2 separate regions of the Homo sapiens genome follow, and region 2 is reported to be linked to region 1. Evidence: microRNA targets listed by miRTarBase, many of them from high-throughput screens and not tested one by one. Region 1 holds a microRNA gene; the other region holds the end of a gene's coding sequence.
Evidence for each region. The annotated mature microRNA hsa-miR-449b-3p reads CAGCCACAACUACCCUGCCACU and lies in region 1 at 1,188-1,209, opposite strand. An mRNA with a match to its seed (bases 2 to 7 or 8) in the 3' UTR can be bound and repressed. Matches are read on the target gene's strand: a 7mer-m8 pairs with bases 2 to 8, a 7mer-A1 pairs with bases 2 to 7 and ends in A, and an 8mer does both.

Region 1 (3,000 bases):
ACTTCGTGGGTCAAAATGCCTCCAAGGTAATGAGAATATATTTAAGGTCATATTGTATGGTCAGTTCTTCCCACTTCACAAGTTGTTAGATCTCATGCTGTCTTCCAAATATTTCATGAACCTGTGATTTTACAGAAAATGAAGTGAAAGGATTGAGGTAGATCTTCCAAAAAAATGTAAACCATCCCCCACCCAAAAAAAATCCCCAATATTCTTGATATTTCAAGTGAAAAATGTTTTAGTTGACTGACTCATCTGGAAAATTACCTCAACTTTCCCTTCAGTTGGTACACACACAGTCATGGCTATAGAAACCAATTCTAATGCTGTATTTAGAAACTAATGATGCAGAGGCCGGGCGCAGTGGCTCACGCCTGTAATCCCAGCACTTTGGGAGGCCGAGGCGGGTGGATCACGAGGTCAGGAGATCGAGACCATCCCAGCTAACACGGTGAAACCCCGTCTCTACTAAAAATACAAAAAAATTAGCCGGGCATGGTAGCAGGCGCCTGTAGTCCCAGCTACTCCAGAGGCTGAGGCAGGAGAATGGCGTGAACCCGGGAGGCGGAGCTTGCAGTGAGCCGAGATCGCGCCACTGTACTCCAGCCTGGGCGACAAAGCGAGACTCCGTCTCAAAAAAAAAAAAGAAAGAAACTAATAATGCAGAAAGAATCCTAAAGACTTCACTGAAAATCTGGGGACACATTGTAGGTCCATTCCACATTGTTATTACATTCTAAACCTTATAGTTAAAAACATGTAATTTCATAAATACTTAAACACTGTCTACTCCGAAAGACTCCAAAGACTCCAAAAATATTTCTTAAAAATTTTTAGTTATGGAAAAGCAGGCATAAGTAAATTTTTCTTAAAAGGAAAAAATTTAAGTAATTGTAATACTTTCCTTACCATTATAAAACTGTGCATTGTAAGTATTACTGTATTATAAGCTAATGGCAATAATATATTATGGTAAATAGTGGCTTGCTTCATAGCAGAAAGTACACATAAACACACACTAATTACAGATTCAGTTACACTCTGATGTTCATTGTATATGCAATAAGACAGCAGTTGCATGTTAGCCGATGCCATTCACATATTCAACCAGCTAACAATACACTGCCAGCTCATCACACACAGGTATCCAGAGCACTTCATTGACAAGAAGAATTTATCCAGAAGCAAGTGGCAGGGTAGTTGTGGCTGCTGACTTGACCCAAGCAGCCAGCTAACAATACACTGCCTACCTGATTCAGGTCACTGCCGATTCTCGTGGCCCAGGCAGTCACTGAGGCTAAATTTGTAACATGAAACATAGTGGCAGAACTCTAATCTTAATAGTCACATTAAAGAAAACTTATACACAAAATGTATTACTTCAAGACTATAAGAAATAAAATCAATATTTGCTTGAATCTAGTCAAAAACATAAAAGTTAAACAAAAACTTTAAAACTTTCAGAATACTTACATTTAGGTTTTCCAAATTAAATGCTTGGATAAAAATATGTTCTACAGTACAAATGAATTTTAAAAGTTACTTAACTGTAGGCTGGGCGCAGTGGCTTATGCCTGTAATGCCAGCACTTTGGGAGGCCAAGGTTGGCTGATCCCCTAAGGTCACAAGTTCAAGACCAGCCTGGCCAACATGGTGAAACCCCGTCTCTATTAAAAATACAAAAATTAGCCCAGCGTGGTGGTGCTGCCTGTAATCCCAGCTACTCAGGAGGCTGAGACATGAGAATCACTTGAACCCGGGAGCTGGAGTTTGCAGTGAGCCGAGATTGCACCACTGCACTCCAACCTGGGCAACAAAGTGAGACTCTGTCTCAAAAAAATAAATAAAAAGTTACTTAACTATAGCTTTTCAAATCACTTCTGTTTACTGATCCAAAGACTACTTGTCTGTATTAGACAGTAAAATATCTAGGAGTCGTGATAATACATAAGCTGTGCACGACACAAAACTGCAGCAGTGTTTGGGGGAAAAAATCAACATTAAAGTATTTAAGAAATGTAAGGGCTTAAATGCAATTAGTTTTCTCCTACTAGAAATGACATTAGTAATCGAGTTCTGAAAATGCAATTATGTATTCAATATAGGATGTTACCACTTGAATACTGAATTTTTTTTTTTAAGAGGCAGGGTCTGGCTCTGTCCTCCAGGCTGGAGTGCAGTTGTGCAATCATAGCTCACTGCAGCCTTGAACGCCTGGGCTCAAGCAATCCTCCTGCCTCAGGCTCCCAAGTAGCTGGGACTACAGGCACATGTCATCATGCCCAGCTAATTTTTGCAGTTTTTTTATAAAGACAAGGTCTCCCTGTGTTGTCCAGGCTGGTCTTGAAGTCTTGGCCTCAAGTGATCCTCCTGCCTCAGCATCCCAAAGTGCCGGGATTACAGGCATGAGCCACAGTGCCTAGTTGCAAAATTTATATAAGATCTAGAAAAATCTATTAAAATGGTGGTGGATTTGGAACTAGAATCTCTGCGTACAGGTCAAAGGAAGATGAACTATTGAGCCTAGAGAGAAGCATGGTAAATGGTGACAGAGATTTAAAGCAGATGAAGGCTCTTTATGAAACACGTTTATAAAACCATTTAAATTTGTTTCCTTTTACACTGATTACAGGAGACACTAAAGACCTTTGGGTTTGGTCTTTCAAGGAGAACAGGTACTACATTGGATCAACTTTAAATTGCTCACGTTAAGAACCATGGTTTATGCCACTTCTCCACATTGTCCACAAGATGGCACCATTTCCATTTCTTTGGGGGGCGTGCTTCTGAATGCAACAGAGAGGAGTGCAACTAGCAACTGTTAAAATCATTAACAGCCGCTAGCAATACACTGCCTACCTGACACATCCCAGCTTTATCCTTTGCTGTGGAGGCAGAAACTAGAAAGTACGATTCAGATGCAAACGATTGCATTATTTGTCTGGGATCTTCAGTTTCATAAAGAAATTTTTTTTAGTATGTAATAAGATACTAAAATTC
Region 2 (3,000 bases), not on the chromosome of region 1:
AGCATTTAGATTAAGCCATCTCTCAAAATATCTAATATATAAATTGAGATCAGAAGCAGTCTGATTTGTGGTTTCTTCTCCCTGCCAGCTAATAAGAACAATACAATTATACATGGAGCCAACAAGCCACTTGTCTTATCATGTCATGATAACAAATATAAATCACGTGTTCATTTCTAAGTGAATCATGTTGGCCACTGTAAAGAGATGTTTTGTATTAGATTATTTCCTCAGTGGTGGCTCATGCCTGTAATCCCAGCTGTTTGGGAGGCTGAGGTGGGTGGATCACTTGAGGCCAGGAGTTTGAGAACAGCCTGGGCAACATGACAAAACCCCATCTCTACCCAAAATACAAAAATTAGCTGGGCATGGTGGCGCGCCTCTGTAATCCCAGCTACTTGGGAGGCTGAGGCAGGAGAATCGCTTGAACCTGGGAGGTGGAGATTGAAGTGAGCTGAGATCTCGCCACTGCACTCCAGCCTGGGCAGCAGAGTGAGACTCCATCTCGAAAAACAACAGAGGCTGGGTGCCGTGGCTCGTGCCTGTAATCCCAGCACTTTGGGAGGCCGAGGCAGGCGGATCAGTTGAGGTCAGGAGTTTGAGACCAGCCTGGCCAACATGGTGAAACCCTGTCTCCTACTAAAAATACAAAAGTTAGGTAGGCATGGTGGTACATGCCTGTAGTCCCACTTACTCAGGAGGCTGAGACACGAGAATCGCTTGAACCCAAGAGGTGGAGGTTGCAGTGAGTGGAGATTGTGCCACTGTACTCTAGCCTGCGAAACAGAGTGAGACTCTGTCTCAAAAAAAAAAAAAAAAAAGCGCGGTAAAAAAGAAGCTAACACCAAGTAGGTATCTATCGTCTAAAAAGATTTTCAAAAGTAGCTTCGGTGTTTGTTAAATATCCAAAGAGAGAAACGCAAATTTAACAGACTAATTTTCAAATTAGTACTTTATTTTTATAATACCTCTTATCATGACCATTCACCATTAAAGCATTAAAAGAGCATGCTCTTTTGAATCTGAGTGAAAATATGCAATTTCTCCTCTGTAAACATACCAAAACCTATCATCATATCTAGCAATTTAATAAAATGTTATGAAAATCTGTAACAAATACACTTCTTTGGCATTAATACAACTTGTAACTGGATGAGAAGAATTAAAAAGTAATACCATCAAAGGCAAAGCTCTACTAACTATTTAACAGGATGACTTAGAAATCTAATTATTCAACACATAGTTTTTTCCCCAGTTAAATGCTTTAAAAACTAGCCAAACTAATAAATCTTAAGAATTATTAGCAAGAAAATCATTTTTCTGAAATTCTTGCTGTTAAATTTAGTGTTTACAATTCAGTTTGAGGTAACTTTGAAGAAGTTTTGATTTCATTCCTTAGGATAAAGATTCTTTTTAGCACTTCTTATGTCAATAACTTATAATAGTGAATGGCTGAATCCAAATCTCATTTTACTTTTTATTTCTTTCCATGAGTAGGTAAATATGTTTACAAATATTTAAATATGCAAGTACTTTTCTACATATTAATATGTAGAGAACTATTATATATCTTTCTTGCAAAAAGATATGCTTCTGTCACATTATGAGTATATTCACATTAAAACAATAAAACTGGGCCAGGCACGGTGGCTCTAGCCTATAATCCCAACACTTTGGTAGGTGAGGCAGGAGGATTTATTGAGCCAGGATTTCAAGAGTAGCCTAGGCAACACAGTGAGACTCCATCTCTACAAAAAATAAAAGAATTAGCCAGGTGTGGTGACATGCACCTACATTGTGAACTCTGCTGTCCGCTGACACCTGGTCTCCTGTTCACACTGGACTGCAGGGATTCCCAGTGCCTTCCACAAGTTGCAAACACTGTAAGATACAGAATAACCCTCTAGGAAGGTGACCAAGCCCTGTCCTCTGAGCAAACCATTTCTAATACTCCAAACAAGTTTTCTAAGAGGGAAAAGTAACTACTTATTGAATTTATTGCATCTTCATATTACTGCAACAGTTTTCTTCAATTGAAATGGTGTCTTAGATCAACTTAAGAACAGTATGGTTTTCACAAAAAAGGAATACTCGTATATTATAAACACAGATTTTTATCTTTTTAAACTAGGAAGACTGCACCAATAGATATGAACTTTTCTGTTTGTAATAGATACACTATAGCAATATCTATATTGCATTCTTTAGCTATATACACAATTGTTTGCTTTCATGTGACTTTTTTCTAATAATTTCTCTTGCACTATATAGTAGTGACTCTCACACTGAACAGATAAGCTGTGTGTTTTATATAACACTGATTATTTCATTCCACATTTAGACAGATAAACCTGAACATCCAACTATGGGTTCACATGTAAACTTTCAGAAATTTTGTTATGTCTCATATAATAAATATAGAATTATGTCATAGTATTTAAAAACAATAGCCACCACTTCTACCAGCCCCCACCAGGGGAGAGCCTAAGGCTGTGAGTCTGTTGGAGTGTTGTCATGATTTGTTTTTTCTCCAGAAACAGAATGCTTCAGAAACTGACCAGTAGCACCGATGTACAATCTTGATCGCATGGGCCATTTCTGAAAAAGATTATTTCAACAAGAATTCAAAAGTTAGTATCTATGACATATATTAACATGGTCTACAATGTTAAAGATTGTAAATAGCCCAATGCAAATGCAATATTATGTAGCTAATAACAATTATAAGTATGAAGTATAAGAAACAACAAGAAAAAATGTTTATTAATGCTAACAGTAAAAAACAAAAATATACTCAGACTTTGATTAACATTTTAGAAGTAATATGTGTGCTTATGGACAAGAACTGCAAGAAATCATGAAAAATAAATATAGTTAAAGTGTAGAAAAATATATCTGCCCGTAATGTTTTAATTTTAAACTAAACCTAAAACAAAATTAAGACTAAAACTAGATCCTGGGCTTTAAAAATATTTTTAAAAGTTCCAATTTTAGTATATG

Region 2: miRTarBase lists TCF24 as a target of hsa-miR-449b-3p. Seed matches in the 3' UTR shown: 7mer-A1 at 2,448-2,454.

Annotation. Positions count from the first base shown.
Region 1 is chr5:55,169,480-55,172,479 of GRCh38, forward strand. It overlaps MIR449B (microRNA 449b), which reads right to left and starts at 1,263; the gene lies at 1,167-1,263. The region is part of intron 2 of CDC20B (cell division cycle 20B); the gene reads right to left. MIR449A (microRNA 449a) reads right to left here and starts at 1,143; the gene lies at 1,053-1,143. It overlaps MIR449C (microRNA 449c), which reads right to left and starts at 2,874; the gene lies at 2,783-2,874.
Region 2 is chr8:66,945,567-66,948,566 of GRCh38, forward strand. TCF24 (transcription factor 24) reads right to left here. Exons shown (of 4, transcript NM_001193502.2): 4 at 935-2,598. The coding sequence ends at 2,485. Among named protein-coding and RNA genes, the nearest start is that of TCF24, 16 kb to the right of the region's middle.